Linked DNA regions of Homo sapiens. The protein of the gene in region 2 purifies or fractionates together with the protein of the main gene of each other region. This does not show direct contact. Each region holds a gene or a part of one and is shown on either strand. Other genes may lie near its edges. The genes, in order: RHEB, SPATA19, VDAC3 and RSPRY1.

Evidence for each region.
Region 1: the proteins of SPATA19 (region 2) and RHEB purify together in Homo sapiens (affinity purification with mass spectrometry; 2 studies listed by BioGRID and IntAct, with this or other methods). This does not show direct contact.
Region 3: the proteins of SPATA19 (region 2) and VDAC3 purify together in Homo sapiens (affinity purification with mass spectrometry; 2 studies listed by BioGRID and IntAct, with this or other methods). This does not show direct contact.
Region 4: the proteins of SPATA19 (region 2) and RSPRY1 purify together in Homo sapiens (affinity purification with mass spectrometry; 2 studies listed by BioGRID and IntAct, with this or other methods). This does not show direct contact.

Annotation. Positions count from the first base shown.
Region 1 is NC_000007.14:151,488,037-151,496,496, forward strand, and holds part of RHEB (GTP-binding protein Rheb), read right to left. Parts: intron 2,979-8,460; coding exon 2,907-2,978; intron 1-2,906. UniProt on the Homo sapiens protein: Small GTPase that acts as an allosteric activator of the canonical mTORC1 complex, an evolutionarily conserved central nutrient sensor that stimulates anabolic reactions and macromolecule biosynthesis to promote cellular biomass generation and growth.
Region 2 is NC_000011.10:133,841,732-133,850,194, reverse strand, and holds the start of SPATA19 (spermatogenesis-associated protein 19, mitochondrial precursor), read left to right. Parts: upstream 1-4,681; 5' UTR 4,682-4,748; coding exon 4,749-4,826; intron 4,827-5,004; coding exon 5,005-5,061; intron 5,062-5,554; coding exon 5,555-5,686; intron 5,687-5,857; coding exon 5,858-5,949; intron 5,950-7,632; coding exon 7,633-7,710; intron 7,711-8,089; coding exon 8,090-8,156; 3' UTR 8,157-8,165; intron 8,166-8,463.
Region 3 is NC_000008.11:42,394,173-42,402,632, reverse strand, and holds part of VDAC3 (non-selective voltage-gated ion channel VDAC3), read right to left. Parts: intron 8,424-8,460; 5' UTR 8,422-8,423; coding exon 8,355-8,421; coding exon of another isoform or gene 8,323-8,354; intron 7,550-8,322; coding exon 7,500-7,549; intron 5,956-7,499; coding exon of another isoform or gene 5,953-5,955; intron 3,922-5,952; coding exon 3,769-3,921; intron 2,983-3,768; coding exon 2,930-2,982; intron 846-2,929; coding exon 618-845; intron 1-617. UniProt on the Homo sapiens protein: Non-selective voltage-gated ion channel that mediates the transport of anions and cations through the mitochondrion outer membrane and plasma membrane.
Region 4 is NC_000016.10:57,203,329-57,210,328, reverse strand, and holds part of RSPRY1 (RING finger and SPRY domain-containing protein 1 isoform 1 precursor), read right to left. Parts: intron 5,826-7,000; 5' UTR 5,671-5,825; coding exon 5,321-5,670; coding exon of another isoform or gene 5,317-5,320; exon of another isoform or gene 4,948-5,316; intron 2,737-4,947; coding exon of another isoform or gene 2,644-2,736; intron 2,272-2,643; coding exon 2,219-2,271; intron 1,255-2,218; coding exon 1,142-1,254; intron 1-1,141.

The DNA.
Region 1 (8,460 bases), on a different chromosome or scaffold from region 2:
TTCTGGAAGGCGCTTTGTCATTCACTAACAGTGCTACCTTGAGATGGCAGAAGTCGGAAATTGCTGCTATGCTTGCTTTTTAGTTATAAACTACCACTAGCTTAATTTCAGCCTATCAATTTAGTTTGTATTGAGTTGTTAGATTAACACTACAGTAGATAATGAAGTACACTTGCATAAGTAGTACTTCTGCTTTAAAATTTCCCCAAACTAGAAAATATGTGGTTTTATTAATATTATTCTCCTACACCCCTACTGTTAAAGATGACACAGTCCCAGAATTTTTGCTCACCATGACACTTCACTGAAATGTGTCACCACTGAGTGTTTGCTATAACAGCTTGTTCTAATATTATAAAGTGTAAAATAACTACTAAATTATTTCCAGATCTACAGAGCAGTTTTTTAAAATCATGAAACCACCCACTTATTTATCTTGCTAGCAACAAGTTCATGATAACCTTTTCTTTTCTTTCTAATTCATTGTTATCACTGAACAATGTTTTTCTACCAAACAGTGGAGGAAAGGGTGGGCGAAGGGCTCCTGCCCTGTGTTAGGTTATCAGAAGTGTGGTAAGTAGAATATAATGTCTGAACATGCCTCACGAACTTTTAATGGATACATATTCATATTTATTTCTGCTCCTGCCTACAGACTTTAATAAACAAGTACTCTGAATTCATTTTTGAGGTAAAGAAGTCTTCATTATTGAACTGTAAGATGAGAAAAAATTTAAAATATGACCAAAGATGATGTTGATAGCCTCAAAAAAGTAGGGTCATATTACTCTGTTTCTGAGATAACATCAAGTTACATAAGTTGGACTTTCTTCTGATCCATTACTTACTAAGAAAATGTATGTATATATAGCTCCATGATACACAACTCCATGACTTTCCTTCCAACTCAGTTTTTACTTTTGAGACCACATCTTGCTCTGCTGCCCAGGCTGGAGTACAGTGACATGATTACAGATCACTGCAGCCTCAAACTCCTGGGTTCAAGTGATCCGCCTGTCTCAGCTGAGACTACAGGCACACACCATCACGCCCAGCTAATTCCAGCTCAGTATGAAATGGCATGAGGATACAGCCACAATATCCACTTTTAGAGGCAGAGCTTACGAAGAAAACAATCTTCTATTGTTCTGTTAATACAATTCCAAAATGAACCTTATTATTTCAAGGATCTAAAATCCTAAATTGCTTTGTATAGCAAATATTAAGGTCCAAGATGATGATTTTCTTATGTTCTTATTCCAGTGGACAGAAAACCGAGCTTGTTCATCCAGCACTCACATTAATCTGCTCCTCACACTTGCTTACTATTATATAATGACCAGCTAGACAAATCATAGGATGTAATCAGGACTCCTCCCTGTAGATACCCAGAGGTTACTTTCAAATATAACATCTTGAAAGGTTACTTTCAAAAATATTCCTGGAGTTAGTTTATCAACCAACAGGTTTCCTTCTCTGCTACCAGCACACTGGAACACAAAGGACAGCCAAATATTTTAAGCGAGGGGTGAGCAAACTTTTTCTGTAAAGGGCCAGACAGTACCAGTAAATATTTTAGGCTTTGTAGGCCACCTGGTCTCTGCTCTTACTATTCAACAACTCTGCCATTGTACAGCATGTAAAGGACAACATGTAAAGGAACAAGCATGGCTGTGTATCAATAAAACTTTATAGAGGTTAACATTTGAATTTCATATAATTTTCACATGCCAGACATTATTCTTCTTTGGACTTTTATATATTATGCTTAAATGGAAAAACCTTTCTTAGCTCTTGGTCTGTATAAAGACAGGAAATGGGCCTTGCTGGCCTGCAGGCTGTCGTTTGCCAAGCTCTTTACTGTCAGCCAAAGCATTCAAGTGATTCTCTTGCAAGCCTCCGGCCGGTGAAATATGCTTCGTGTCTAATATGCCAATCAGGTGTTGATGAATCCCATGTTTAAATCTACATGTTCCTGGTGACAAATCCTAGATAAGTCCTGGTCTCAAGAATCTGAGAAACCTAGTTCCAGGGCCCACCTGGGGTTCTAAGCCTGAAAAGACCAGCTTCCCTGCTTCAGATTATCCTTGGCGATCCCTAGAATCAAGATCTGTCTCAAAGCTGGGCACAGTGTTGTATGCCTGTAGTTCCAGCCACCTGGGAGGCTGAGGAAAGAGGATCACTTGAGTCCAGGATATTGAGTCCAGCCTGGGTAACACTGTGAGACTCATGTCTCTTTAAAAAATAAAATAAAATAAATAAATAGTCTCATGGTCCTAGAATCCATCAGGAATATTCTGAAACCATGGATTAAAATTGAACAAAGTAAAGGTCATGGCTGGTTCTGTCTTCCCTGCTTTTTTCTGCACATGGCCTAAAATGTCAACAGGCTTTTTGAGCCAACTTCTTTTTAATGCTGCAACTGCTCTATCCAATCCCAGAATAGTTCATTTCTCTTTCAAATCTTTAGGGCTGGAAAGAAGGGTATAGAGAAATGTGGGTGGGAGTACGGCTTCTGTAAGAATAAGGAACAGGGATCTCGAGTGTTTTTCATTCTTTCAAGCTTGGAATCCCTGGAAACTGCAATGGCTGGGAGAAAGGGGGTGTGGGGGAGAAGACTGTGCTCTCCATTCCTGTTTTGGAGCAGATTCTGGAATTTGAAGATTCCAGTAATGGGCCAGACTCCTACTGACTTGAATTAATAATTTCTAGATGGCAGGGGATGCAGACATGGAAGGAAAAATCTTTCAGGGTAAAGTAGGTAAATCTTTTGCAAGTTTTCTTTGACCCCAATTGGGAGACACACAGAATTTACCTCCTGCACTCAAAGCCTCCATGAATACACAATGGCTATTTTACACAAAAGAAGGCTTCTCAGTTTTTAAGTACTTGAAAACAATACTTACTGTTTTCTATGGTTGGATCGTAGGAGTCCACAAATTGGCCTTCAACAAATTGAATCGTCAATGAGGATTTCCCTATAAAAGAGAACAAGAGCTTAGTGTGTGTTGGCATATGAAGGTAAAAATTTTTAATTTTGCTGTTTTATTAAAAAACCATTAATAGATGAAGACACTGAAGGTATCAGGGTCAGAAAACATTCATTTAATTAGCATGTGAGCAATTTCAAAAAATGAAATAAATTTCATTAATTTGCTTTATATGAGGATATTATGCAATTAAGCTATTACAAAGTAAACATGTCTGTGACATTAACAAATATTACTGACCAACAAGCACATCAGATATTCTGTTAAAGATAATCTAAAAGGTTTAAAGTAAGCTAATTTCCTCTAGTATTCTTGGAATCTTGCTATTTAATTTTAATATGAAAATTAAAATGATTAGTTTCGTTGTATTCATTCATATATGACGGTTAGAAGTGTTACCAAGTACAGCTTTTAAAAAGAGTAATCCGGCCAGGCACCATGGCTCACGCCTGTAATCCCAGCACTTTGGGAGGCTGAGGCAGACGGATCACCTGAGGTCAGGAGTTTGAGACCAGCCTGGCCAACATGGCGAAATCCCGTCTCTACTAAAATTAACAAAAATTAGCTGGGTGTGGTGGCGGGCACCTGTAATCCCAGCTACTTGGGAGGCTGAGATAATAGAATTGCTTGCCCCCAGGAGGCAGAGGCTGCAGTGGGCCAAGATTGCACCACTGCACTCAAGCCTGGGCGACAGAGCAAGACCCTGTGTCAAAAAAAAAAAAAGGGTAATCTGAAAATATGTAACATAAGTCTTTATCTTAAAAACTCCTTTGAAGCTAGAAATCCTATGTCATTCAGTATGAAAGGCCTAGCAGTATCTAGAAATTAAGAAATGTTATGGATTTCACAAAATCGCCAATAATTGAACTTGTATGTTAATAAATCAACAACTAGAGCCTTAGCTTCTCACTCTTCTGCTACCTAAAATGTCTACTGGAGGACTTTAGAACAGGGTACATGCCCTGTGAAGAAATCGCATGAGATGCATAGTTCAGATGACTTTATCACCAGGAATGAGGAAGTGGTCTCTCCCTAATTTCACCTCCAAACCCTTCCTTCTCTCTTGCATCCTTGGAGCATTATTACACACATGCTGTATATGCCTGGCATACTTAACTCCATCACAACAGGACGTGCAGTGAGAGTGAAGGAGAGGCATGGTAACACCCATCTTACACTACTGGGTTTAATTTATGCTTGTTTCTCCTCCAAACTATGGATAGGTATAGTTGCACAATGTTTTCACACCAAAGGCATTCCTTAAAATTTAAATTATTAAAAAGTTGGCTTAAAAGTAGTGGTTGCTGGCCGGGTGTGGTGGCTCATGCTTGTAATTCCAGCACTTTGGGAGGCTGAAGCGGGTGGATCACCTGAGGTCTGGAGTTCGAGACCAGCCTGGCCAACATGGTTGGTCCTGTCTCTACTAAAAATACAAAAAAAGTTACCCAAGCGTGGTGATGGGCACCTGCGATCCCAGCTACTCAGGAGGCTGAGGCAGGAGGATAGTTTGAACCCAGGAGGCGGAGGTTGCAGTGAGCTGAGATGGCGCCACTGCACTCCACTCTGGGCAACAGAGTGAGACTCTGTCTTATAAAAAAAAAAAAAGAAAAAAAGTAGGGGTTGCTGAGAAGGAAAGGCCACAAGTTGGTAGACCTATTTACTCCTTATCCGCAGCCCAATACAGTTCAAAATGTCTCTAGAATTACTAATACCTGAAATTATTCTCTACAAAGCAACCTACATGAGCATTTGAAAATTAAACGCTACTTCTCTGCTTCCAATCCTCATTGCAATTAGAATAAATTCTCAACATTTTTTTTTTTTTTTTTTGAGACGGAGTCTTGCTGTGTCACCCAGGCTGGAGTGCAGTGGTGCAATCTTGGCTCACTGCAACCTCTGCCTCCCGGGTTGAGGCGATTCTCCTGCCTCAGCCCTCCTGAGTAGCTGGGATTACAGGCACGCGCCACCACACCTGACTAATTTTTTTTGTATTTTTAGTAGAGACAGGGTTTCACCACATTGGTCAGGCTGGTCTCGAACTCCTGACCTCATGATCCACCCGCCTCGGCCTCCCAAAGTGCTGGGATGACAGGCGTGAGCCACCGCGCCTGCCCTAAATTCCCAGCTTCTAACCGTGGCCCACAAACACCAGGCCATCCCTGCTCTGGTTACCACTCTGACCTCATCCGCCAACAGCCCCCGACAACCCATCCTGAGGCTCCAGTCACATCCCTTCTGCTCCTGGAGTTCCTGCCTGCCTTGGCCCCTTTACTCTAGCAACCCCCACTGCCCCCATCTCTGAATATATGACTCATCTTTGTCATTCTGATCTGAGCTCAAATGTTAGTTTCACAGAGAAACCTTCAAGACCACCCTAAGGTAGTACCCATTCCTTAAAAGTCATTCTCATAGCTACTGTTTTATTAAGTTATTTGGAATGATATTCATTTAGTGAACACTCCACTGAAGCCAGCACAGGGCCAGCCGACACATTGTAAACATTGAGATTTCTGAACAAATGAACGAAATTAAAGCGTAGATCTCCAAAGGTCACTCTTAGCCATTTAGATACTACAAAAGATCTCAATTTTATACAAATGAAATACAAAACACAGTTCAACAGAAATTAAGAAACAATTCAATTAGTATTTATTGGTACCTAATCACAGGCTTGCCTGTGATATAGGAATACAATAGTTTAAGAATTCCACAAATTTAAAATGAATTGTGTTGAAAAGAAACCATGTTATATATGCTAGCCTGTAAAGGAGAATTTAACTCAAAATACAGCAGAACTACTTCAGGTAACAAAAATAGCAAGAAGAAAACTCCTCTCATGTTATTGAAACTGAAAAATTAGAAGGAGTAAAAAAAAAACAAACTGTTATTTACACTGAATGCTACTGCTTAAAGAAATGAAATTTAATTAGAAAGAAAGAAGGGAACAAACTTCTTAAGGGCTTTTGCAAGGTACTTCTAAGGACTCCAGTGGGCTTTTTATACCCTTATGTGGGTAGGATAAGGGTTTGTGGGGTTTTTGTTTTGCTTACAAATGGAAAGAAAGGAAAGAAAGCGATCATTTTCTCCCTAAAGATATGGGCAAGAGTTACAAAGAAAAAAGGAAATAATATAATTAAAAAGATTTTTGCAACATTTTGTGTAGTAGAACTGGACTAAAAATAGTGAAAGAGGGGCTAAGTATGATACATGGGATAAGCTCCCCAAGCACTGGGCAACCAGGAACCCCTGGATCAGACAGTCCTCTGAACTGGCACTGGCCAAGTCTCGACAACCTGACTTGCGGGAGTGAAGGGACGGGGGAAAAGAGCCTCAGGAGTTTCCCGTGAAATTCAGGAAGCCACATTTGAACAGAAAAGAAAGTTACACACATTAAACAAGACAGCATGAGATCAAGTGCAAAAACGGAGTGAGAGAAGAGCTCCTTATTTGTATCACAATGGGCATACACTATTTGACAGGCTAAATTAACATTTCACTTGAAAACATAAGTAATCATTCCGGTAACAGACAATGTAGTCTAACCAAAATCACATCGCAGGTTGACAGCCAACTGTTGTTTTCATGAATAGTAAACTGGGATACCAGAATTTAAAACGTATTCCTCCAGGGTGGAAACTGGATTTTCAATCAGACTGGCCCTAGGAGAAAGGTACTGTTCATTAGCAGAAGTGGCACTGGAGAAAAACTACGTTTCCCTTGGGTCTCTCCTCCCTGGGGCTCTCCCGCCAAGGTGAGGTCATTAATTATTTAACTAATCCAGAAGGGATAGGAAGGCTATATTTGCTAACATGCTGTTTTTTGCCATTTCCATTAAAAAGTGCTATTATTAACTAGTGTTGAAATCTTGACAAGTCAGCATTAAATGCTAATGAATCTTCATAAATAAACCCCACCGCTCATTTTCAAGTGTTCTCAGTTCCAGTTGTAATTTCTGGCTTTAAGGAGTGTCTTCTGGAGACGTAGTTCAGATCTTTTGGTTAGGTTTTTCTAGTTTGTTTGCAACCACAAAAAGGCATTGGTGATCTCTACTGTGATCACCTTTAACCTTTTTCTCTCAATAACTTCATATATTTACTTTGGCTTTTGTCCTTAGCAAATTCAGGTCTGGAAACACTGTTACTCGCTTGCTGAAGATAATCTCACACTCCAGATCAACTCTTTGGAAAAATGTTACATGAAAACTACACAGGAGTGATCCCAAATAAATGGAAAAGTAGCCCATACTCAGATGTGTGTTTATCCTCAAACACAAATCACTCATTTAATGACATAAATTACTATAAATGGTTTAAAAGGCAGTATCTCAATTCCTACAATTAACTGTCAAATACTCTTCCTCCAAACCAAAACCCACCTTAACTTTTAAAAATAAAAATTATTTTAAAAAATTCTTCTGAGCTTTTATCAGGGAACAGCATTGTATTATTTTTTCCAATGATAAAATGGCACAGTGAGTTTCTCAGCTGGTATTTTCACTACAGAAGGTGTACTTTCAGGGGTGTTGACTCAATCTTATACCTCATGATTACTGCAAAATAGGCACTGTTTACAGAATTATTTTAAGTTTTCAGATTAATATTGACTTTGTTATCATGCTTATTCTCCTAAAAAATAACTTATTAGCCCGGTGTGGTGGCTCATGCCTGTAATCCCAGCACTCTGGGAGGCTGAGGCCGGTGGATTGCTTGACCCCAGGAGTTTGAGACCAGCCTGGACAACGTGATAAAACCCTATCTCTACAAAAAAAATATAAAAATTAGCTGAGTGTGGTGATGTGTGCATATAGTCTCAGTTACTCAAGAAGCTGATGTAGGAGGATCGCTTGAGCCGAAGGGTTGAGGCTGCAGTGTGCGTTGAGCGTGCCACTGCACTCCAGCCACGGTCTGTCCCCCCTCCCACCGACTCCCTACAAGCCCAGCATTTTCCCAGTTTATACATTGCTTGTTCATTGGGATATGATGGGGAAGACCAGATTTTCAATCTATTAACTAGTCTATCAAGGCATTCTGCAGAAGGGGGAGTCCATTAGAACCGATGTAATGCATCTAGGACACAACCCATTCCAGGGCTGCTTTCACCACCTCAAATTCACAACATAACTTTAAGGGGCTTTGATGACCATGGACACAAGCTAACAGTGGGCCTGAAAGCCCACTGGCCTTTGCACCAGTAATCCTCTCCATGCAACTTCAGCAACCCACCTCCTGAGCACACCAAGAAGTGCCTGGTCACCACCCAGACTGCTGTTCCTCTGGCACCTGCCCTTCTTCCCACCTATCAATCAATACACAGTATTCCCCAGTGGTCTCCCTTTCTGATTCTCATCATCTAATCCAAACCATCTCTACCAGCAATGCTTTCAAATCAGTGGTGTGGCCTAACTATTCATGAAGTCAATATACTGAGCCATGACCCATACTATTTTTTTTTTTAAGAAATAGGAATCCCA
Region 2 (8,463 bases):
TTATACACCAAGCGACCAAGCGGAGAATCAAATCAAGAACTCAACCCCTTTTACAATAGCTGCAAAAAATTAAAATACTTAGGAATATACCTAACAAAGGAGTCAAAAGACCTCTACAAGGAAAACTACAAAACGCTGCTGAAAGACATCATAGATGACACCTACAAATGAAAACACATCCCATGCTCATAGATGAGTAGAATCAATATTGTGAAAAATGACCACATTGCCAAAAGCAATCTATGAATTCAATGAAATCTCCATTAAAATACCATAATCATTCTTCAAGAGTTAGAAAAAACAATTCTAAAATTCATATGGAAACAAAAAAGGAGCCCACATAGCCAAAGCAAGACTAAGCAAAAAGAACAAATCTGGAGGCATTACACTACCTGATTTCAAACTATACAGTAATGCCACAGTCACCAAAACAGTGTGGTACTGGTATAAAAATAGGCACATAGGCCAATGGAACAGAATAGGGAACCCAGAAATAAATCCAAATACTTACAGCCAACTGATCTCTGACAAAGCAAACAAAAACATAAAGTGGGGAAAAGATACCCTTTTCAACAAATGGTGCTGGGATAATTGGCTAGCCACATGTAGGAGAATGAAACTGGATCCTCATCTCTCACCTTATACAAAAATCAACTCAAGATGGATTAGGGACTGAAATCTAGGAACTCAAACTATAAAAATTCTAGAAGATAACATTGGAAAAACCCTTCTAGACATTGGCTTAGGCAAGGATTTCATGACCAAGAACCCAAAAGCAAATGCAATAAAAACAAAGATAAATAGCTGGGACCTAATTAAACTAACGTGCTTTTGCAGGGCAAAAGGAACAGTCAGCAGAATAAACAGACAACCCACAGAGTGGGAGAAAATCTTCACAATCTATACGTCTGACAAAGGACTAATATTAAGAATCTACAACAAATTCAAACAATCCCATCAAAAAGTGGGCTAAGGACATGAATAGACAATTCTCAGAAGAAGATACACAAATGGCCAATAAACATATGAAAAAATGCTCAACATCACTAATGCTCAGGGAAATACAAATCAAAACCACAATTCAATACCACCTTACTCCTGCAAGAATGGCCAGAATCAAAAAATCAAAAAACAATAGATGTTGGCATGCATGCGGTGATCAGGGAACACTTCTACACTGCTGGTGGGAATGTAAACTAGCACAGCCGCTGTGGAAAACAGTGTGGAGATTCTTTAAAGAACTAAAAGTGGAACTACCATTTGATCCAGCAATCCCACTACTGGGTACCTACCCAGAGGAAAAAAGTCATTATTCAAAAAAGATACTTGTACACGCATATTTATAGCAGTACAATTCACAACTGCAAAATCGTGGAAGCAACCCAAATGCCCATCAATCAATGAGTGGATAAAGAAACTGTGGTATATATATATATGATAGAATAATATTCAGCCATAAAAAGGAATGAATTAATAGCATTTGCAGTGAACTGGATGAGATTGGAGACTGTTATTCTAAGTGAAGTAACTCAGGAATGAAAAACCAAATATTGCATGTTCTCGCTGATGTGTGGGAGCTAAGCTATGAGGATGCAAAGGCATAAGAATAATACAATGGACTTCGGGGACTTGGGGAGAAAAGTGGGAGGGGGTGAGGGATAAAAGACTACAAATGTGGTGCAGTGTACACTGCTTGGGTGATGGGTGAACCAAAATCTCAGAAGTCACCACTAAAGAACTTACTCATGTAACCAAATACCACCTGTACCGCAACACATATGGAAAGATAAAATTAAAAAATTTAACAACAACAACAACAACACGTTCATTACAGTGTTATTCATAGAAGACCCAAACTGGACACCATTTAAGGTACATCAACTGGTGAATGGACAAACAAAATGTGGTATGTCCATGCAGTGGAATAGTATTATGGGGTAATACCCCATAATAAAAAGGAGTGAATTACTGACACATGCTACAAGGTATGTAGATGACCCTCCCAAACATGCTTGGTGAAATAAGCAAGACATAATACGGTATAGTTCCATATGTATGAAATGTCCAGAAAAGGCACATCTCTAGAGATAGAAAGCAGATTGGTGGGGCTGAGAATGGAAGCCGAGGTTGCCTGCAAATGGGCATGACAAACATTTCTGGAGTGATGGATATGTTCTATAATTGAATAGTTGTGATGGTTGCACAATTCTCTGAATCTACTAAAAATTATTTAATTATACATTATGATGGGTAAATTTTATATTATTTAAATATATCACAATAAAACTGACTAAAAATTAAGAGTTTCTGTTCCTCAGAAGACAGTACTCAAAGAGTGAAAGGCAAGTCATAAATTGAGATAAAATAATTGCAAAACACATATTGATAAAGGACTACTATTTACAATACATTAAAAAATCTACAAATCAATAAGAAAAAGACCAACAATTCAATGAAAGGGCACAAAGCTCGAGGAGGCACTTCACAAAAAAGAATATCCAAAGTGACCAATAGGCAAATAAAAACATGCATGATGCCACTGATAATCGGTTAAATGAAAATTAAAGTATTATTAGTTACCACTACATCTCTACTAGATTGGCTAAATTTAAAGGAGCGACAATACTAAGTGTTGGAAAAAACGTGGAGTAACTGTCACTTTCATACATTGCTTATGGGCAGTAGATTAATACAACCCCTTTGCAGTACTGTTTGGTGTATATGAATGCTACACATATCTAAAGTCTATGACCTAGCAACTCTAATCCTTGGTATATACTCAGAAGATTTAGTGCTTATGTCAACCAAAAGATAGGTACAGTATAAAAATTTTCATAGCAGCATGATTTTAAACAGCATCAAATCAAATATAATACAAATGTCCTACTAAAAATGTTTTCTATCTTGATCTGGGCAGTGGTTAAACAAGTAAGTGTGTGTGTGTGTGTGTGTGTGTGTGTATGTGTGTGTGTGTAAAAATTTTTCTCCGCTGTATGCATATTTGTACATTTTACTGTATGCATTTTATAACATTGTAATCAAAAAGCAAATAGATTTATGTATGAGCTTCATTTTGACAACATAAGCACAGGATATGTCGTCGAGAAACTAATGAAAATTTTACTTCTGAAGTGAGTTAGAACAAGGTTGAAGGTATGGGGAAGAGATGGAACGTCCTTGAATGTATCTGTTCATGTTTTGATTTCTGAATCACATTAATATTTTAAATATTCAAAAATAAAATTACATCAATAAGGATGAAAACATAAATTTTAGGGGATAGCTGTAGAAACAGAGATGTTGACAGGTAATTTCATCTGCTATTTTACAATTTCCAGTCTTCCTTGGAATTAGGTAGGGGCCATAGGACTAGTTCTAGATCAAAAGCTCTAAGTAGGAGCCTCTGAGCTGAAAGGTGGAACACTGACCTGATTCCTCTCTGTGCTCTCTTCCCTGCTTTGGCAGTCATGGAGGTCGTGTCCTCTGAATGTGGACCTGTGAGTCTCCACATGGCACACAATTGCTCTGAAATTACCCAACTTGCACGAGAGCTTTTGAGAGTGAGAAATAAACATTTTGATTTGGAGGTTGGTTTGTTGCCTCAGTCCTCAGCAGAGCCTAGCCGATTCTGACTATGTCAGGGATGATATAAAATTGAGGCGAATTGTTGAGAGGGAAGACGTGTAGTGGCTGTATCAGGGGAATTGGAGAAAGTGATAAAAGGTTTTCTATAATCCTGAGAAGAATAAACGTGGGAAAATTTTTGGAATATTAGAGTTAGAAGAAAGCTAGGGACACAACTCTATCCCTTTCAGTATAAGACAAAGAAACTCAGACCAGAGGGACTAATGATTAGGTCAAGAGCACATGACAAGTTGTTGCGGGACAGGTTGTTACTGGTGGAGGGTGTTCAGGTTCTTGGCGTCTTAAACAAAGAAATGGACAAAACACACAAACGAAGGAAAGAATGAAGTAACAAAGGCAGAGATTTAACGAAAATAAAAGTACACTCCACAGGATGGGAGCAGACTGGTTACAGAATTTTCTGGGGTTTAAATACCCTCTAGGGGTTTCCCATTGGTTACTTGGTATATACCCTATGTAAATGAAGTAGTGGCTCATGATCAGTCTGATTGGTTGCGGAAAGTGACCAATCAGAGGCTGAAGTGAAGTTATAAAGTTATATCTCTATGCAAATGAAGACCTGGCCCACAACCAGCCTGATTGTGGGAGGGGAGCAATCAGAGATACTTTCAGTTTTTCATCTGCCATGCAGAAAAGGAGAGGGTTGCAAAGGGCGTAGCCTCTGGTCTTTTTGTTACTTGGGCACGGAAAGTTGGGGTTTTCCTTTTGATTTAGTTCTAGGAAGTCAGTGTAAATCGGCCTTAGGTTTCCTGGCTCCAGACCCCATCCTCCTGCCTGGAGGTGAGCTCCCAAATTAGTGCTTTCCCAAGAAAAGAATTCAAGGGTCAGCCAATGGTGTTAGACAGCAATCTTTTATTCAATGGTTCTGCTCCTTGAAGCAGGGTAACTCATAGGAGTGCACCCAGAGCCTGAAATGCAGGGGCTCTTGGCAACGGCATTTATACTCACATACATCATTTTCAAAGGGAGGCCATTGTCACATCACCATGGGTCAGCCAATCAGGTGGACACCTCCCTTCAATGACCTTCCTGTCCCATAGGAGTTCTCAGGCAGCTTCAATGGAAGGAGGGAGCCAAGAAGGGGGCCTGGTATACATTCAAAGATGATAATTACGACATGGATTGTGTATATTCTTGCTCGGAAAGGTGTAGGGCTTCCCTTCCTACCAATAACCAGTTCGGTAAGCAGCTTGGTGGTAGTCACATGGAATAATTTTTCATATATCTTCTCCCCCTGTGGGACCCTGCTGCACTTCATAGAGATCTTACAAATAAATTTGAGTAACAGTTGCGGGGGCTGGGTGGGAAGAGCTGAATTTCTAGGTTTTCTGAGGTCACCAACTTGCCAATTTGTTCCAGGACATTGACGTTGTGGAAAGTGAGGCTGTGTCTGTACTACATCATTGGTTGAAAAAAGTGAGTAAGATTTCTTTATGACTCAGGATATCCAAAATGCTAGAGAAGTGGTCTCAGTGGGTGTGGGGATCTGGACTTCCTTCTTCATGGAACTGGAACTCAAGTTCATTGCCAGACACCCTTCCTAGATTTGAGTCTAATTTCTTCACATGTGCTGGAGGACACTGTGGCTTGTGTCCTGGCAGGAAATGTGTTAGCACCACCACTAACGCCGTCCTGCTTCTCAAGCATCCTGGCTTAAGGGTTTCAGCTGCATCCTTCCCAGCTCAAGGGTGTCTCAGGAACACCTTGGGATAGGGCCAGGGACTTAGGGAGTTCTGAGGACTTTACAGGGAAGTAGCTTATTGTGGGAACAGTGAGGTAAGGAGTGTATGTGTGTGAATATGTGGTGTGTGAGTTGTGATGGAGAATGAATAAAAGGAAAGGAAGAGGAGAAGAAGACCCAGGGTTGGATGCAGAGTGACATTTTCAGAGGGAATTTCTCACCTTTCAGACAGAAGAAGAGGCTTCTCGGGGCATAAAGGAAAAGCTGTCCATCAACCACCCTTCCCAGGGTGTAAGGGAGAAGATGTCCACTGACTCCCCTCCCACCCATGGCCAGGACATCCACGTGACCAGAGATGTGGTAAATGAGAGTTTGAGACCTTGCCTGGGAGTAGCGGTGAGGGAGAGGGGAGAGGTGGGAGGTGCACCGTAAATGATTCTGGGCAAGGGTGAGGTGCTCGTCTGGGCTCTGTGCCAGCCCAGTTGGGGGCCACACTGGGCAGGAATCACATGGACCCTCTGGATTTCCCAGGTGAAGCACCACCTCTCTAAGTCTGATTTGTTGGCAAACCAGAGCCAAGAGGTCCTAGAGGAGAGAACACGAATCCAGTTCATAAGATGGAGGTAAGGTGTCCCACTTGCCCTGGGCGAAGGAAGGGGAGGGAGAGATGCGCAAGCCCCTCTCTTCACGAACCCTCAGATGCTCTTCTCTAGAGATGTCGTCTTTGGCTGACAAATTCCTCAGCCTTGCTTTGGGGTCTTAAGGGAATATCCTTGCTATCTTGAAAGCCCAGCTCATTTCTACATTTTTAAATGACTTGAGGGGTTGGAAAACTGGGCTTGCACTCCATTTCTTAAATGCTTCTGAATACATTTCAGATTTCTGTTATTTTTGCACTTGAGTTGCTCAGAAGTGGCTGCACTTTAAAGAGCTAAAAGAAAATAAGCTCTTAAAATGCAAAAGCCAAAGTTTTCATCTGCAACTGAGGTGTGGGGAGGCTTCCCAGCGCCCGAGGCTAGAATTCTGCACTCGGTTATGGTGGCTTCGCCAGCGTCCCGGGTGCCTGCCAGCTCACAGCCGTCCCCACTGCCTCTCGTGGCTCTGCAGATGCTGAGCCCCGAGGCCCAGGGAGCTGGCCTGAAGCCATCATGCTTCAGACAGAGGCTTTCCTATTTCCTTTCCTGCACCTGTGTTCACTGGGGGTCTCTGGAGCACATCAGCCACCCCTTCCCAGGAGAGGGACTGAGGGCTTAGACTGGTCCTACGGGAACCTGAAGGAGACTTCTCCCCTTCCTCCTCTCTTCCTCCTTTCCCTGCCGCATCATCGATGTTGATCTGTTGTATCAAGGAGGCTCCATTTCTCAAGAAACGGTTTCCATGTGCTTACCCCTTCTAGTGGCATCTGCCTTTTAGGAAGACTCAAATGCACAGTAATTTCATAACCAAAAGGAATAACATGGTGGGATCTGAGAGCTCCCTGGGAAAGAGTTTTTTTGGATGGGAAGCCTTCTGAGGCCCCTAAAATCATAAATGTTGTTGATTATAATCCAGGCTTTTCTGTGCCTGACGTGGTTGTGCTATGGAATTGCGGACATTGTGCTCCTTGGTTTGGATAACACACACATCATCTTCCAATATTTTAAAAATCTCGTCTGTATAAAAAAACTAGTTTTAAGCTTTTCAGACAGGCTACAGGAATCAGTCAATTATTTACATATAATTTTTCCACTCTGGATTTTCTACAAAGATTTTAAACCAAAAGCCTCCGCCTATCTCCCCCCACAACCCACTGGTTTTGGTGTCCCCCTCTTATTTCAGTAAGTATATAGTCAGGAAATATATATATCCCTTTATGAAACAAAGCAAGGAGGCTCCCCAGGGGACCCCACAGCTTCCTCGCTGTAGGCTTTCCTAGAAGCATCTCTGAACCACAGTGGGTGTGGGGTGATGCAGGTCATCAAGAGCTGATGATAGGAGAGGAATTCAGAAGACTGAATTCAGAAGGGTGAATTCCACGGCTCACGAGACCACTGCTTGCTGCCTTTAGTAAGGGCACTCAGCTCTGTGTCCCTGGCTCTCCCCGGGACAGTCTGCTACCTGTTCAGCATTACTGGGGGCTCAAGGGTACCTGGTTAGTAAAAAAAAGCTTTGTGCTCATGAGTCAAGAAGGGGGAGAGACCAGCTCAAAAGTTCATGGTGTCAGGGCAAGAGTCATTGTTTGCAGGATCCCATCTCTAGCAGCTCTCTATGCCTGTTAAGAAAGAAACTCAGATCCCATATGCCAATGTACGAATGGCCTTTTGCAGCCACACTCGTATCTTCCAAGTGCCAAGTGAGATGACAGAGGACATCATGCGAGATCGAATAGAGCAGGTGAGACGAAGGTAAGCTGTTTGGAACTGCTTGATTTGTGTTCCTGACTGGGGGCAGGTAGGGTGGGGGTGACTGCTGGGTTTCCCGCCCACACCCAGCAATGCTATCTCTGGTATGCCAACATCAAGAGCAGAGACACACAGTTCCCAGGGCTGCGTCTTGTCTTCTGTGCTCCACATGACAGGGCTTTGCCAGCCTCCCATGGTGTCTGCCAGTGCACAGAAGGGCTTCAGGCTGTGGGCCTGTTCATATGACTGTGCTCCCAGGCCCAGTGTGGCCACGGCCTAGGCACGGCCTGCCCTCCCACCGCAGCCCCTGTGCCGTGGTCTGGGTAGGCTCTGCTATCAGGCAGCCTCCCTCCACCTGGCCCTTCTCCTCTGTCCCCTGCAGCATATCCCGTCTTACAGATGTCTCAGCTCAGGACTTCAGTATGAGACCCTCCTCCTCAGACTGCTGAGAGCAACAGGTGAGAGAGCTGACGGATGAGGAACTGGGCAGAGAAGATGGTTATCCTGGGCAGTGGGAAGGGGCACTGCAGCTGGGAACTTGGTAAAGAGGCTTAGCTTTTCCCTACTGGGGAAGGGCCTGCACTCAGGGCCAGTAGTGGGAGAGGAGGGCTGGCTGCCTTAGGCTCCCGCAACGCCTCTCTTAAGTTTGTGGAAGGACTTGAAGTCAAATTTGATTGGTTTCCTGACTCTGTGGTGTCAGAGAGCACTGCCTCTCCATCATTCATGGGCCCGGGCTTTCGTGTTTAGGAGGTTGTG
Region 3 (8,460 bases), on a different chromosome or scaffold from region 2:
TTTCTTCCTGGTATAGTAGCAGTGTCCAGTAGGCTCAACATAAAATACTACGTAAAAGTTCTGATTCATCCCACCAACATGGTGCAGCCTACATAACTGAATCCCAGGACTCTTTCAGAGCACCTGTTACTTCTGAATGCATTAGCGGTACCTGGGTTCCAACCGAGAATACCAGTACCTGAAACCTCCACAGAATTACCGGGATGTCCCAGGATGCTCAGATCAATTTGGTGGTGGTTGTTGGTGACCAAAACAGACCTGCTTCCAGATACTGTCAAGATGAGAGGGCAGCAGAGGAAGCAGTAACATCTCCAAAGGGTCATCTTACCATGAGGTAAGCCATGCTCTGGGCTCCCTCTATCCCAGTGGTTCTTCTACAGAGGCTGGAGCTTCCTCAAGTTTGGGGTGCAGGCTGAGGGGCCAGTGACCACCAGCAGCACAGCCTGCACACCACGTGCACCAGCCTCCTGGCAAGGTTTTGCTATGAGGATAGCACCGCAAGGATGGATATTCACCAAGGCATGCTAAATCTGAGTACCATCACTTCTCAGCATGCTAATGGCTACAATATTTTGGGCAACTGCACTGATACTAAGGAATAAATTATAAACACTCACACATGTGTGTGCAGCTGGAAGTCCGCAGCCTTGTAACCCAGGGCGAAATTATTCTGTGACAGTTTGGATTTGGCTGTGTCAAAACTCATCTGATAGCCAGCAAGCCACCCTTCGAAGGCCAACACAGCCCAGCCATAGATGGTTGGTCCAGAAAAATCTATATCAACATTACTGCCAACACTAAAACAATCCCGTTTATAGGAGGCCTTCAATTTCCCACTCTTCTTTCTGCAATAAACAAACAAACAAAAGCAAATGATGAAAACAACATGAGTTCTTACTACTGTCTAGGAATTTTTAGAGTAAGATCCTCTCTCTCATCTCCCAATGTAAATATTATTTTGGTACATGCCACATATATAGTAAAAACATTTCAAATGACCTAGTTCTACAAATATAATTTTGTTAGGATTAGACATGTATAGACTACTATCATCTATTACTCATTATAAGTTCAAATGATAGGATACTTCATGATTTATTTCATAAAAGCATGAACAAAAGTATAAGAATGAATAAGAGGCTGGGTGTGGTGGCTCACACCTGTAATCCCAGCACTTTGGGAGGCCAAGGTGGGCGGATGACGAGGCCAGGAGATTGAGACCATCCTGGCCAACATGGTGAAACCCCGTTTCTACTAAAAATACAAAAATTAGCTGGGCGTGGTGGCACACGCCTGTAGTCCCAGCTACTTGGGAGGCTGAGGCAGGAGAATCACTTGAACCTGGGAGGCAGAGGTTGCAGTGAGCCAAGATCATGCCACTGTACTCCAGCCTGGCGACAGAGCGAGACTCGTCTCAAAAGAAAAAAAAAGAATGAATAAGATATTTCAGTGCCAAATTAATAATCTGAAGGTGTATGTATACAGACGTACAAGAAGCCAAATCTCTTTAAATGTTTCCAAATGCCAAATGCCACAAAGAATTAATCCCCAATATACATTATTAACCTATCATGGAGAGAAGCATGCTTTTTTGAAGGACAATACTGAAAAAATGAAATTAGTTCTTAATAACCCTATTCCAATCAAGCCTCTTGTAGGAATATTTGTCCTGGCCGGGCACAGTGGCTCATGCCTGTAAGCCCAGCATTTTGGGAGGCCGAGCCAGGCGGAACACGAGGTCAAGACAGAGACCATCCTGCCCAACGTGGTAAAACTCCGTCTCTACTAAAAATACAAAAATTAGCTGGGCGTGGTGGTGCATGCCTGTAGTCCCAGCTATTTGGGAGGCTGAGGCAGGAGAATTGCTTGAACCCAGGAGGCAGAGTTTGCAGTGAGCTGAGATAGTGCCACTATACTCCAGCAAGACTCCATCTCAAAAAAAAAAAAAAAAAAAAAAAAGAAAAGAATATTTGTCCTAAAGATAACTGAAGTGTGTGGCAAAAAGAACACACCTGTTGTTACGGCTGAGACAAATGTCACTTTGCATTCATCTAGCAACCTCCGTCCTTCAGATAGCATGGACCCACATTAGGCAGATAGGAAATGACACAATCCCCCTTTTTTTCACGAGGAAATTGAGGTCAAGAAGTTGGGGGATTTACAGAGGCTAAGAAATCAAGTAGGCAGCAGAACTAATCATTATAGCATCTGAGAGCCAGATCACCTTCTTAAGAAATTAACTTTTCAGCACCATAAGAGAGGGTGAGGGGGAAAAAAAAGGAATTAACTTTTTTTTTTTTTTTTGAGACAGAGTCTCGCTCTGTTGCCCAGGCTGGAGTGCATCTCGGCTCACTGCAAGCTCCGCCTCCTGGGTTCATGCCATTCTCCTGCCTCAGCCTCCTGAGTAGCTGGGACTACAGGCGCCCACCACCATGCCTGGCTAATTTTTTGTATTTTTTAGTAGAGATGGGGTTTCACCGTGTTAGCCAGGATGGTTTCCATCTCCGGACCTCATGATCCGCCCATCTCGGCCTCCCAAAGTGCTAGGATTACAGGCGTGAGCCACCACGCCCAGCCAAAAGGAATTAACTTTCTCAGCAGAATACCATGTCCATCAATCTTCAGAATTGCTTAAGATTCATCTATGGTCTCAAGACTCTTCTAGCTCCTAAATTTTTTCTACCATGTGTCTCTCTCAAATACATTTATACATTTTTGCTCATCTATTCAGTTTTCAAATTGTTCATCCTGCCTTGGTGGGGAGGGATCTTCCTTTATCTGTATTACCTATACAAGGTCTCCAATATTCCTTATAGCAACCTTCTGAGTTCTTCCTGCCTCTGAACTTTGCACTATATCTCCTTATTCTAAAGCTCTCTACCCTTTCAGGCTCCAAAAACGTTTCAGGAAATGGGATTTGAATAATTACCCTGTGTTCGGTACAAATATGGTATCAAGAGTCAGTTTCAACCCTTCAGCCAACTGAAAAACAAAGATTTAAAATAAATAATTAGTAATTTTCAATCATTTATCCAACTCAAGAAACCAATTCTAAAGTTTCCTGAGTTCTTTAACAAAAAAAAGGAGTCATTCAAGAAAGCAAAATATTAAATTATGTAATAAGTAAGCTCTCCATCCTCCTGTCCCCTCACCCCAGCCTTCATCATGGTTCTCCCACTAAAAAATGGGGCAAATCCTATTTTAGCAAGTTACATAAAATACAGTTCAAAACCAAACAGAATTCCCATACAACAAAATCATCTTGATACTCTCTTGAAAGAGCAGTAATGAGATAACCTGACATTTAACAAGCAGGCTAAGTCATTTTACTCAGTTTTGCATGTACATTATCTATACATGGTATCTCTATCAAAAACAGTGCCCTGTACATAGTGGGCACTTGACTATATCTAATAGATTTTCTCCTTGAAAACATGAGAACATTTTAGAAAAATTTTTCTGTCAAGCCAATTTTTCAACAATTACAAAACTAAACCAAATTTCCGCAAATAGTTTGTTCTACCCAGGAGAAGCTTAGCTGTGTAACAGAGAACCAGTCAGAACAAAGATGTAATATAGTAATTAGAGTACTCACAAACAAAGCCTTATTTTCTAGAAACATAAGACATCAAAAAAGGCCACATGCAGAGAAAAAATATGGCTACTAGATAGGTTGTAAGATCTCTTTTGATTATATTTGGGGTATGTTCATCATTCAATCTACAAGATAAATTGAACCTATGAATAACTTCTAATGCGTTCTCTTACCTTATTCTCCCAAGAGATTTCTGTCCCTAGAGTATTGTCTGTGTTCCATTTCTGGGTGAAGGTAAGTCCATAGTTACAGACCTTATATTTGGTTTCTAGGTTGCCTGATGCTTTCCCTGTATCAGTGTAAGCATGACCAGAAGTAGAAAATTCCTGGTAAGCAAGAAAAAATAATTACTTTAAAATTAGCTCATCAAATAGAAAATATTCACTTTGGAAAGCAGTGTTCAATGTATCAAAAACAATACCATTTACTGCTTGCCACAGCCCTACTCTAGAGCAACTTCTTTCCTCCTTTCCCCTTGCTTTTCCAGTCCCTAAATATTTTAACCAGTTCTGCCAGGCGCAGTGGCTCATGCCTGTAATCCCAGCATGTTACGAGGCCAAGGCGGGTGGATCCCTTGAGTCCAGGAGCTCAAGACCAGCCTGCGCAACATGGCAAAACCCCATCTCTACAAAAAATACAAAAAATTAGCCAGGCATGATGGCACGTGACTGTAGTCCCAGCCTGAGCCCAGGAGGCAGAGGTTGCAGTGAGCCGAGATCATGCCACTTCACCCTAGCCTGGGCAACGGAGTGAGACAGCTCAATACCAGTTTCAGATCTTTCCATTACTCTACTTCTCTTATTAATATCTCTTGTTCCATATACTCTCTTACCAAATGGTAATCCTAAATTCTCTCCTTTAAAAAAGAAGTATCTTTACTGAAAACAAATGCCTTTACTAAAAAGACCAAAAATATTGTATCTTAAACATTTTACTTTCATGACCTAAAAAAAGATTATCAGTTCTCTGCTATATGTTTCAAACTATCAGTTAATTTCAAGGTCCTTAAAAATCCCAAAATACTGCCCTCCTCCTTTTTAATAGGGTCAACACTTTACTACTTCCTTTTAAAAATGTTTTTTTTTATTGTGGTAAATACATGTAACATACATTTTACCATTTTAATAATGTTTTAAGTGTACAGTGAAGTGGCATTAAGTACAGTCACACTGCTGTGAAAACTTTAATGCTTTTGTGTGCAAAACTGCAAAACTTCTGCTTAGACAATTTCAATATTTGAAAGTACTACCCATTTTTCAAAATAAAGTAGAATGCTATAATTTATCCTTCTTTCCCCCTTTCTATCCTGTCTACCTTTAAGAGTGCTTTCTATCAAACAGTTACTATGAATGAGACTCTGTCTCAAAAAAATAAAATAAAATAAAATACATCCTTTGCCCTAGTTCAGTGCCCTTTAAGTCATATGACAATAAGCAATTAGAAATGGACCTCCTTCTGGGGAAAGCAGACAGCACCTGTCACTGACAATCTATGAACTGTCAAGAAAAAACATTCTGATTGGTCCTGTTTTAGGGAGCATTTCTGAAATCCTGCCAACAGTAATGAGATGCTGCCAACCCTGACCAGTCTTTTTCACTGCCTGCAACATGAATCCTCTCCTTAACAAATGCCCTGTCCCCTAACTCTAGTTCTACAGGCAGATGAGACAACTGGGAAGTTATGTTCTGTTTATCAAACCACACAGAATGGTTTCAAAGAGAGTATCATGCTGCACATTTAGGGGAAGGCCTTAGTAAAAAAAAAATGATAACATGTTAATCATGTTTAACTGTTCACATAATTATTTTAACGTGACAATCATTTTTCTTTTAGTAGATCCAACTATCTAGTGTTTTATTTTTTACATTTACTTTTCACAAACTTGACAAGTATAACAAATGCAAATCTTAATTTTGGTGCTAGAAAAACCTTATGCACAAAATTAAGGTAGAGGGGTAGTCTACATTTCTCCCTTGTCAGCATCAATTCTTAGTTTGAAGGTCTGTCACGAATCTAAAATGCCACAGGTACAAATCTCAGAAAAAAAGGCTAGAATTGTTCTAAGTTGAGTTCCAGGCTCACGATTCACAGTTCAGTTTGTGTCTAATTTCATAATTTGGTCAAACAAGTGCAAAACACATTTATAACATGCATATAACATGCATATAGCTCTACATTAAATGCTTAGTAAGCAACAAAACAAACAAAAATGTTACTGTTAAGTAGATAGCATATGAGAAAAATATCAAGACACAATCTAAGAAATTTGGAACAATGATTGAAATTTATCCTAAATCAATACCAGAAACCAAAAGCAGCCATAAAAACAAGCATACGAATAAGCTTTTTTTTCTTACCATCTGAATGAATATTACCACACAACAGCAGCATGAAAGGGAGATAAAATTTTAGTTGATAATTTTTGCAACACAAACCTAATGAGCAAATTCTGGAACCTACACAAAATGAGAATGATTCTTCTATTTTAACAGAACTATATACACAGCGTGCCCATCTTAGTAAGGGAGGTGCATATATATTTATTTACTCCAGAGAAACCCAGGGAAAGAATGATGGTCACAAACCATGATTATACACAGTATCATTAGAATTCCACATGTCTTTGTCCTTCTAATTATACATTCAGAAATAAAATTTTCATGGGTTTGAATGGATAAATACCAAAAACGATGCAGCCAATGAGGAGAAATCAGAGTAAGGTAAATTAAAACTTAACCTACTTGCTGAGATTTATTAAATAAAAGCAATTTTTTCTGAGACGGAGTCTTGCACTGTTGCCCAGGCTGGATGGAGTACAGTGGCACGATCTCTGCTCACTGCAACCTCTGCCTCCTGGGTTCATGCCATTCTCCTGCCTCAGCCTCCCAAGTAGCCAGGACTACAGGCACCCGTCATCAGGTCTGGCTAATTTTTTTGTATTTTTAGTAGAGACGGGGTTTCACCATATTAGCCAGGATGGTCTCAATCTCCTGACCTCGTGATCCGCCCGCCTTGGCCTCCCAAAGTGCTGGGATCACAGGCGTGAGCCACCGCACCTGGCCTTTTTTTTTTTTTTTTTAAGACAAAGTCTCACTCTGTCACCCAGGCTGGAGTGCAATGGCTTGGTCTCGGCTCACTGAAACCTCCACCTCCCAGGTTCAAGAGATTCTCCCGCCTCAGCCTCCCGAGTAGCTGGGACTATGTGCGTGCCACCACACCCAGCTAATTTTTGGTATATTTTTAGTAGAGACGGGGTTTCAGAATGTTGACCAGGCTGGTCTCGAACTCCTGACCTCATGACCCGCCCACCTCGGCCTCCCAAAGTGCTGGGATTACAGGTGTGAGCCGCTGCACCCAGCCAAAAGCTATTGTTAATGATACTTTGAAAATATGCCAACATAGCCTTTACTGTAGTCTTTACTTCCAATAAAAAAAACTTTATAAACATCAGTTAAAAACTGTAGAATAATGTACATGCATACGTGCAGAAATACATTTTATTTACATATTTTGTTTCGACTAATCATGAAGGGGCAGAGTAAAGTTAATTTGTTTTTGTAAAAGGGTAATAAAATTTCCATGAACCCATTATCATGGAAGTGAGGTTTTTGGTGCCCATATACATATTCATGAAAGTATAAACATATGACATGGGTCAAAAAATATATATTCTACATCTTCTGAGTGAAAGCTGTAGTATACTCTGAGAAACACAAAAGGTCTCTTCAAAAATTCAACTTGGTTGTTTATTTTAATTGGCTAAGAATGCTGTTTAAAATCTGAGAGGACAAAGCTGTGGGGAAGACAGCATGGTGCTGGTTCAAGTAACTAGACTGTCATGATTTTAAACAGATTCCTTTAAGTTAATTATGTTACATTCATTAAAAATATATTAGATACTCACCACTCCACTACAAGACTTGGTTTTCAGGTCTATCTTGACCATGCCAAAGCCTATACACACACACACACAAAAACACAGTAATGTACAAAATGTGACATTCACTAGTTTTTGCAACTCAGAAATTATGAAATAGCCTATAGTACCTTCCATATGAAAAATGCATAGTATTTTCATTGGGTGAGAGTTCCTCAAGAAACTGAATTATAACCAAATAAATGCAGTATAATTTTCAAGCACTCAAAATGAATAAAGATATACTTTTAAAATGTAAGTTAAAGAAAAAAATAAATGAAAGGAATATGCACTATTCCAAGAATCAAAATTGCTGAAAATAGTGTGCTGCTATATATATCGTTTAAAATATAGTTAACATTACTAGTTAATAAGAAAAAATCAAATATGTACAGCACATAAATTTAAGTTAAATTTTAAAACCTAAAAAATATTTATTTAGGATCAGAATATACATTACTCCAAAGAAGTCAAAAGTTATGTTGTCACTTTCATAAAAACAATGCCACTGTTTGGAGGGAGGAAAAGTTCTACCCCCTAATTTAATTGTCCTCAGGGCCAGACAAAGAGACATAAATGTTATATATATTATTCTACATTCCAGATAACATTAAATATGGACATGTATATGCATCTGTATATGTATATAATTGCTTTTAATGCTTGTAAGGGGTTCTGCCTCTAAAGAATGAGGTCTAATAGCCTGTTAATAGTTATCCCCTTAAATCTTGTGAAGTGGAATAATGCTGACTTACCCTTATTTTACTAACACAGTATTTACACACAGTAGGCATTCAACACTAACCTTTACCCCAAACTGGAAAGTTACAATAGCATACTTACCATATCCTTTGTTGAAGACATCCTTAGCAGCCTTTCCTAGGTCACAGTACGTTGGTGTGTTACACATATCTTATAAAGAAAAACAGGGCAAAGGAATAAAAATAAC
Region 4 (7,000 bases), on a different chromosome or scaffold from region 2:
GTGGGAGGATCCCTTGAGCCCAGGAGTTCAAAATCAGCCTGGGCAACATAGTGAGACCCTTTATCTACAAAAAATAAAAAAAATTTAGCTAGGTGTGGTGGTGCATGCCTGTAGTCCAGCAACATGGGAAGCTGAGGCAAGAGGATCACTTGAACCTGAGAGGTTGAGGATACAGTGAGCCATGACTGTGCCACTGCACTCTAGCCTAGGCGGGGCCGGGGAAGGAAGGGAGGCAAGAAGGAAAGGGAAGGAAAGAAGGAAGGAAGGGAGGAAGGGAGGAAGGGAGGGAGGGAGGGAGGGAAAGAAAGAAAGAAGAAAAAAAAGCAATTAAATAAAGCCTTGATAGAGAATGTGGCGGGGCACAGTGGCTAACGCCTACAATGCCAGCACTTCGGGAGGCTGAGGTGGGCTGACTGCTTGAGCCCAGGAGTTTCAAGACCAGCCTGGGCAACATGATGAAACCCCATCTCTAAAAAAAAATACAAAATTAGCCAGACATGGGGTCATGCACCTATGGTCCCAGCTACATGGGAGGCTGAGGTGGGAGGATCACCTGAGCCTAGGGAGGTTGCAGCTGCAGTGAGCTGTGATTGCTCTACTGCACGCCAGCCTGGGTGACAAAGTGAGACCCTGTTTCAAAATAAATAAATAAAAAGACAGAGGGCTGGGTGCAGTGGCTCATGCCTGTAGTCCCAGCACTTTGGGAGGAGGCCGAGGCAGGTGGATCACCTGAGGTCAGGAGTTCAAGACCAGCCTGGCCAACATGGTGAAATCCCGTTTCTACTAAAAATCCAAAAATCAGCCAGGTGTGGTGGCGGGTGCCTGTAATCCCAGCTACTTGGGAGGCTGAGGCAGGAGAATCGCTTGGACCCGGGAGGCGGAGGTTGCAGTGAGCCAAGATCACATCATTGCACTCCAGCCTGGGCAACAGAGTGAGACTCTTGTCTCAAAGAGGAAAAGAAAAAAAAAGAGGACATAATTCTTCATAATACAAAATAAATTTACATAACAAAATCAATACTGAATAAAACAGACCCCAAATGTATAAAGATGAAACACAATACATCAAATGTTCTTTGTGGTCATTTATCTTGTGCTTAAGCACAAATGATAGTTTCATAAAAGATAAGTATTAACTTACTTTAGTGGGCAATGGACATTCATCTAGTAACAATGTTATAACAGCTGGTCCCAGTGGATCTTCCAGTGGAATAACTCTAATTAAAGACTGGACAACATCCAACCATCCTTCATCTAAGAGCAAATCAAGAAGATTATATGATGGAGTCACTATTTTTAAAATGTGAAAATATGTCACACGAGATCAATTCACATTAAAAGAAAGACTTTTGGTCTATAGATTTTTAGCAGCTAATATTTGGCATGGACATAATCATCAATTGCTAGTCATCGTGGTGGAGTAAAAACATCTTAAGTTACAGGAGTCTGGTGATTTGTGGGTACCTTTATTTGGAAAAAGGTTAAGCTATGGTCTTGTGCTCTCACATTAAAATAGTTTTAAGCATCTTATTTACTACATAGGAGTTAACTGAGAAAATGAAGTATACTCAGCAGTTGGCTTTGTTTTCAGAATGATACTTAGGAAACTAAGGAACAAAAAATATCTTTGGCCAGGGGCTGTGGCTCACACCTGTAATCCCAGCACTTTGGGAGGCTGAGGCAGGAGGATCCCTTGAGCCCAGGAGTACAAGACCAGGCTGGGCCAACATGGTGAAATTCTGTCTCTACAAACAACAGAAAAATTGCTGGGTATTGTGGCATGCGCCTGTGGTGCTAGCTACTTGAGAAGCTGAGGTGGGGTGATCACCTGGGCCAGGGTAGGTTGAGGCTGTAGTTGAGCTGTGATCGTGCCACTGCACTCCAGCCTGGGCAACAGAGTGAGACTCTGTCTCAAAAAAAAAAAAAAATATATATATATATATATATATATAAATAATCTCCTCTCCATTCCAGAACAGTATGGTGAAAGATCCATCAATGCCAAAAAAAAAAAAAAAAAAAAAAAGGTATAATATGCATTGCCTATTATACCTATTCAGGGAAATTTCCATACAGTAAGGGCTTTTTTCATTGTTATGTATGCTGTATTTTTGGAGTCTTTTATCTCAAAACAAAACAAAACAAAAAACAAAAGGTGGCTACTTTTCTTCATTATTATATATTCATTATAAAGTAATGAAAACAAAACTAAAAATACCTGTTTCTGCCATTTCGTGTAATGTTATCATTGAATAGGGAGGTTCCTGATCACTGGAAAAAAAAATTCAAGGCATTAAACCTGAGGAAATAATAAATGACAATTCCAAATAAGAATTCAAACTGGAGGTGTGGAGGTAAAAAGGGACAGAAGAAATGAACACAAATGTAAGGAAAGAGATAGAAGAGACAACCTGAGCTATGACCTGTAAGGATGAATGTATACCATATGTGCTCATTTCCAGTCACTGTCCACAATGACCCACAGACAAAATGGGCAGGTGGATACAGACAAAGACTACTATGTGTCCTGGGGTAAAAGCACAGGAGTAAAACTGGAGATCACAGCCTACTCTCAGCTTTACACTCAGAGGCCCAGTGCCAACTGAGACAAGCCAGGAAGGTCAACATCACCTTCATACTTACCTCAGAGAAATGCCAGGAAGAGAGACGACAATCCCGGTTGAGGACTTATGGAAGCAAGGGCCTATATACGCATCTTCATTTTGAAGTTTTCTTCTGGAAATACCACTACATGCTTAGACTTCATAAAATGGTATTACAAGAAACAAAACCAAACTTAAGGAACTACTTAACATTCTAGACATTGCTCCAAAGTGGCATTATACACCTTAATTCAGTGGTGTGATCCCAGAAATCTTTAAAAAGTCCTTCAGGGGAACTTCAATAATGAGATGTTTTCCATTAAACAATTCTAACTGCTTAAGAACTCACCACTTATTTGTTTACATATTGTGGGTCTCTGTTTTAGTGTGGAAAAAAAAAAAGCCCCAAAAACTATCATCTTAAGTCATTTAATCCAGAGAATAACCTTGTGATATGGGAATTAGTATGGTCATTTCAGGTACTCATTAGGTGCTGCCTGTTTAAACAATATAATTGACTGATGCAAGTATTTCTGAAGAATGATCTGGCAATAATAAAATTAAGTATGCATATACCCAACAGTTGTAGATAAATTTTTACACAGGTCCAAAAATCAATGCATATTTGCGCTGTTCACTGCAGTGCTGTTTGTAAGAACAAAAATTTGGCAGTAACCTAAGTGACCATCACCAGATGAAAATGTAACAAAATATAATACTTTCAGGCATACAAGGGAATACTCTGTAATAGTCAGAAGCAGTTGTAGATTTATATACAGTAACACAGATTTCGATGTTGAGAAAAGTTAAAAACAAAGAGGTTTGTATAACTATGTCACTCTCTTTTAAAATATTGCAAGGGGCCAAGCGTGGGGGCTCACATCTGCAATCCCAGCACTTAAGGAGGCTGAAGCTCGACAATCGCTTGAGTCCAGGTATTTGAGACCAGCCTGGGCAACATGGCAAGACCTGGCTCTACAAAAACTTTTTTAAAAATTAGCCAGGTGCAGTAGCACACGCCTGTAGTCCAAGCTACTTAGGAGGCTGAGGTGGGAGGATGGTTTGAGTCCAGGAGGCTGAGGCTGCAGTGAGTCATGATCACGCCACTGTACGCCAGCCTGGGTGACAAAGTGAGACCCTGTCTCTTTAAAAACAAAACAAAACAAAAAAACTCTCTCTCTCAAAGTCTATTCTGCACCCATTTTTCCAATGAGCTTAAATTAACATTGTTTGTGGTTTACTTCCTTATTTGGGAAGGATAACTTTTATTACAATTTGGTACAAGGGATTTAAAAAATTTTTTTTGATTAATTAATTTTTGAGACAGGGTCTTGCTCTATTGCCCAGGCTGGAGTGCAGTGGTGTGATCATAGCTCACTGCAGCTGGAAACTCCTGGACTCTAGCAGTACTCCGGTCTTAGAATCCTGAGTAGCTGGGATCACAGGCAAGTGCCACTGTACCTGGATAATTTTTAAATTTTTTTTGCAGAGATGGGATCTCCCTATGTTGCCTAGGCTGGTCTTGAACTCCTGGCCTCCAGCTATCTTTCTACCTCAGCCTCTCAAAAGTGTTGGAATTACAGGTATGAGCCATTGTGTCTGGCCAAAAAATTATTCTTCTCGAAGACTAACAAATGCTCCAGTATTTTATGGAAAAGTTTAATACAGCTCTAAAAATTCGTTTGTATTCACAGGTACACTCTGTTTTATGCTTAATTTTTGAGGAACTAAACGAAACTGGGTTTCTATAAATGCGATTATCAAATGTTTATATACTTAAATTTACTAGCAGGGCCTGAAGCAAAAAGAACACATAAGTAACTTTTTAAAAAATACTACCATCTACTGAGCAACTGTTAAGTACAAAGCTCCACACTGAATGCCTTATGTACATTATCTCATGATAATCCTTGTGGGAACAATATTATCCCCCCATTTACAGATGAGGAATCTGAGGCTTCAAGAAGTAACTTACCCAATGTCATGCAGTTAGTAAGGCACTGGGCCAGAACTTGAGCTAGGCCCATCATGGTTCTAAGCTTTGTGCTCTTAACTACTGAAATATACAACCTTAAGTTAAATGTTTTTTTCTACTTGGATGCCCTTTAATTTCACTGTTATTCAATCTATGATTTTGTATTTAGAGGTAGACAAAGCAGAGGAAAAGACAAAACAGGTACAGGTGTGCCTTGCAGTATCAACTGACAAGCTTCCTAAATGGATTAAAGATAGTCAAATAAGGGATAAAGGATCAAATAAAGGATAATGAAAACTCTCCTTGACCTTAGTCCTTATGTTGCCAAGAGAAGTTGCCTGTAGCCATGTTCTTGGTAAAACAACTTACCTTGAATCTGAGGTCAGTGGAATAGACAGGCATGTACCATTAACAGTGAGCCTTCATGAAACCATTTCCTATTGTAGCTAGCAACATAAACTCACTCCATATTTACTCTATTCTCTAATAAAGATCATAGCTTTATCGTGTTTTCTGCTACAGAAACATTTAGACATTTCCAGACAAAGTAGATGACAGCAAGCAAAAACATCAAATCTTATCATTTACTCTGCCATCAGCGGAGCATTAAAATATTCTCCTTTGCCCTGTGAGCACAAGGCTTGGCGAGTATGTCCTAAAGGAACTGAAGGAGTCCTAAAGTCATGGTTCCGGGCAGAACACTTTTCATTCCACTGGAGGTGACCGTGAGTCAGATACTTACTTATCTACAAGAGTCCGTATTACTGCCAGTGTGTCCAACACTAGCCCATCCACATTTTGTTTCTTTCTCCTTGGCTCATGAGGTCCTCGGCCCCTCCTTGGTGGCCGAACAGGGTCCCGTGGTTGGCTCCTTGTGTCAGCAGTGGGTACTGCACTGTTCTCGGCCTGTTGCTGTTGGGTGTCAACACTGTCATCTGTTCCACTGTCATCTCGGCAGATACAGGAATTACCCATGGTAGTAGCGGCACCTCCAGTCCCTAGGAAGTGGGCTATGTGCTCTTCGAGAGTCAACAACAGACCCTGGCCAAGGCTTCTGCTCGCTAAGAACACGGCCCAACCAAAGACGATCATTTAGGTAGTTTTCAGTTTTCCAAGTACTGTTTTCATAACCTGGAGTTGAGGAATTTGCATCCTATTTGTTTTTAACAACTGAATGCCAAAGAAAGTTGCAGAGCTTATTCCCAACATTATCAACTACAGGGGATTCTGGACATCCAATGGCAGTTCTAAAAGAAAATGAGAAAAAGGAAAATGAATAAAAGATTCTTGACCACTTAATTACTCAAATTTTCCTAGTCTGATTTTATAGATATTAGGATTCTAATGAAGAATTATCTTTGGTTATTTTTATAGGTTTCCAATACAAAGAGATAGCTTTGGATAACAGAATTCGCAATCAATCAATAATTTCTTTTTATCATTCTGTTACAAAGTTGATTGCCAAACCATATTCTTATAGACCAGAGGAGTTATCATTGATTTTTTTAAAACCACATGTATAGTTTTTCCTGTCTATATAGAAATACATTAGAAGGATGTGTGCATTTTTTTTCAAGGGCTCCTTTTATCATAAAAAAAGAGTTGTCTTTCTGTGTAAGAGGTAGGTGTTAAAAAGAGAAAAATCTTTAAAAAAATGAATTAACTCCTTTCTTTAAACCCATAGGATAATTTAACAAGTTTTAAATAAAATAATTACAGACGTTTGTTGTTAAAAAAAAGTTATGATACAAATATGATAGCACCATTTGATATCAAGGAGAATAAAAGGATAGAGTTTCCCATTGGAAGCTCACTCAAGAACTGACAGAATTCATACAAGTTGTTGCAAAGTGTTTCTGTTATGTAAGCAAGGCTTTGTTTTGGGAAAGGAAAACTGATATCACAAAAGTTGTATTTTCACAATGATCAGTTTGTTGCACATGTCTATTACAAAGTTCAGAATAAGATGCACCAATTTATCTTTGCCTGAAAATACTGACTAAGGACCTTGTGCCAGGTACCACGCTGGACTAGGAGAATAAAGATGAGTAAGGAATAGTTCCTGCCCTCCAGGAATTCATGGATGGCCATTCTCATCCCACAAAGTATGTTTATCATTAAAAACCTAATGAAAGAACCAGCTCTTCAAGAAGCTGGTAAAATCTGGTTAGATTCTGGAAGGAAGTAAAGATTTAGAAATAGGAGACTTACATGGGCTGGTAGCAAAAAGTAAAAAAACAAACAAACAAACAAAACAGGCTGACAGCTGGAGAACAGGCCACATAAGGAATAGACTATGCTAGTGTGTAGTCTCTACACAACATCTGGCTAGTTACAATTAATTCCTCATACCTTGAGCACTGACCAGGAATAATATAAACAAAATTTATAATTCAGTGGAATTAGAAGAGAAATATTACTC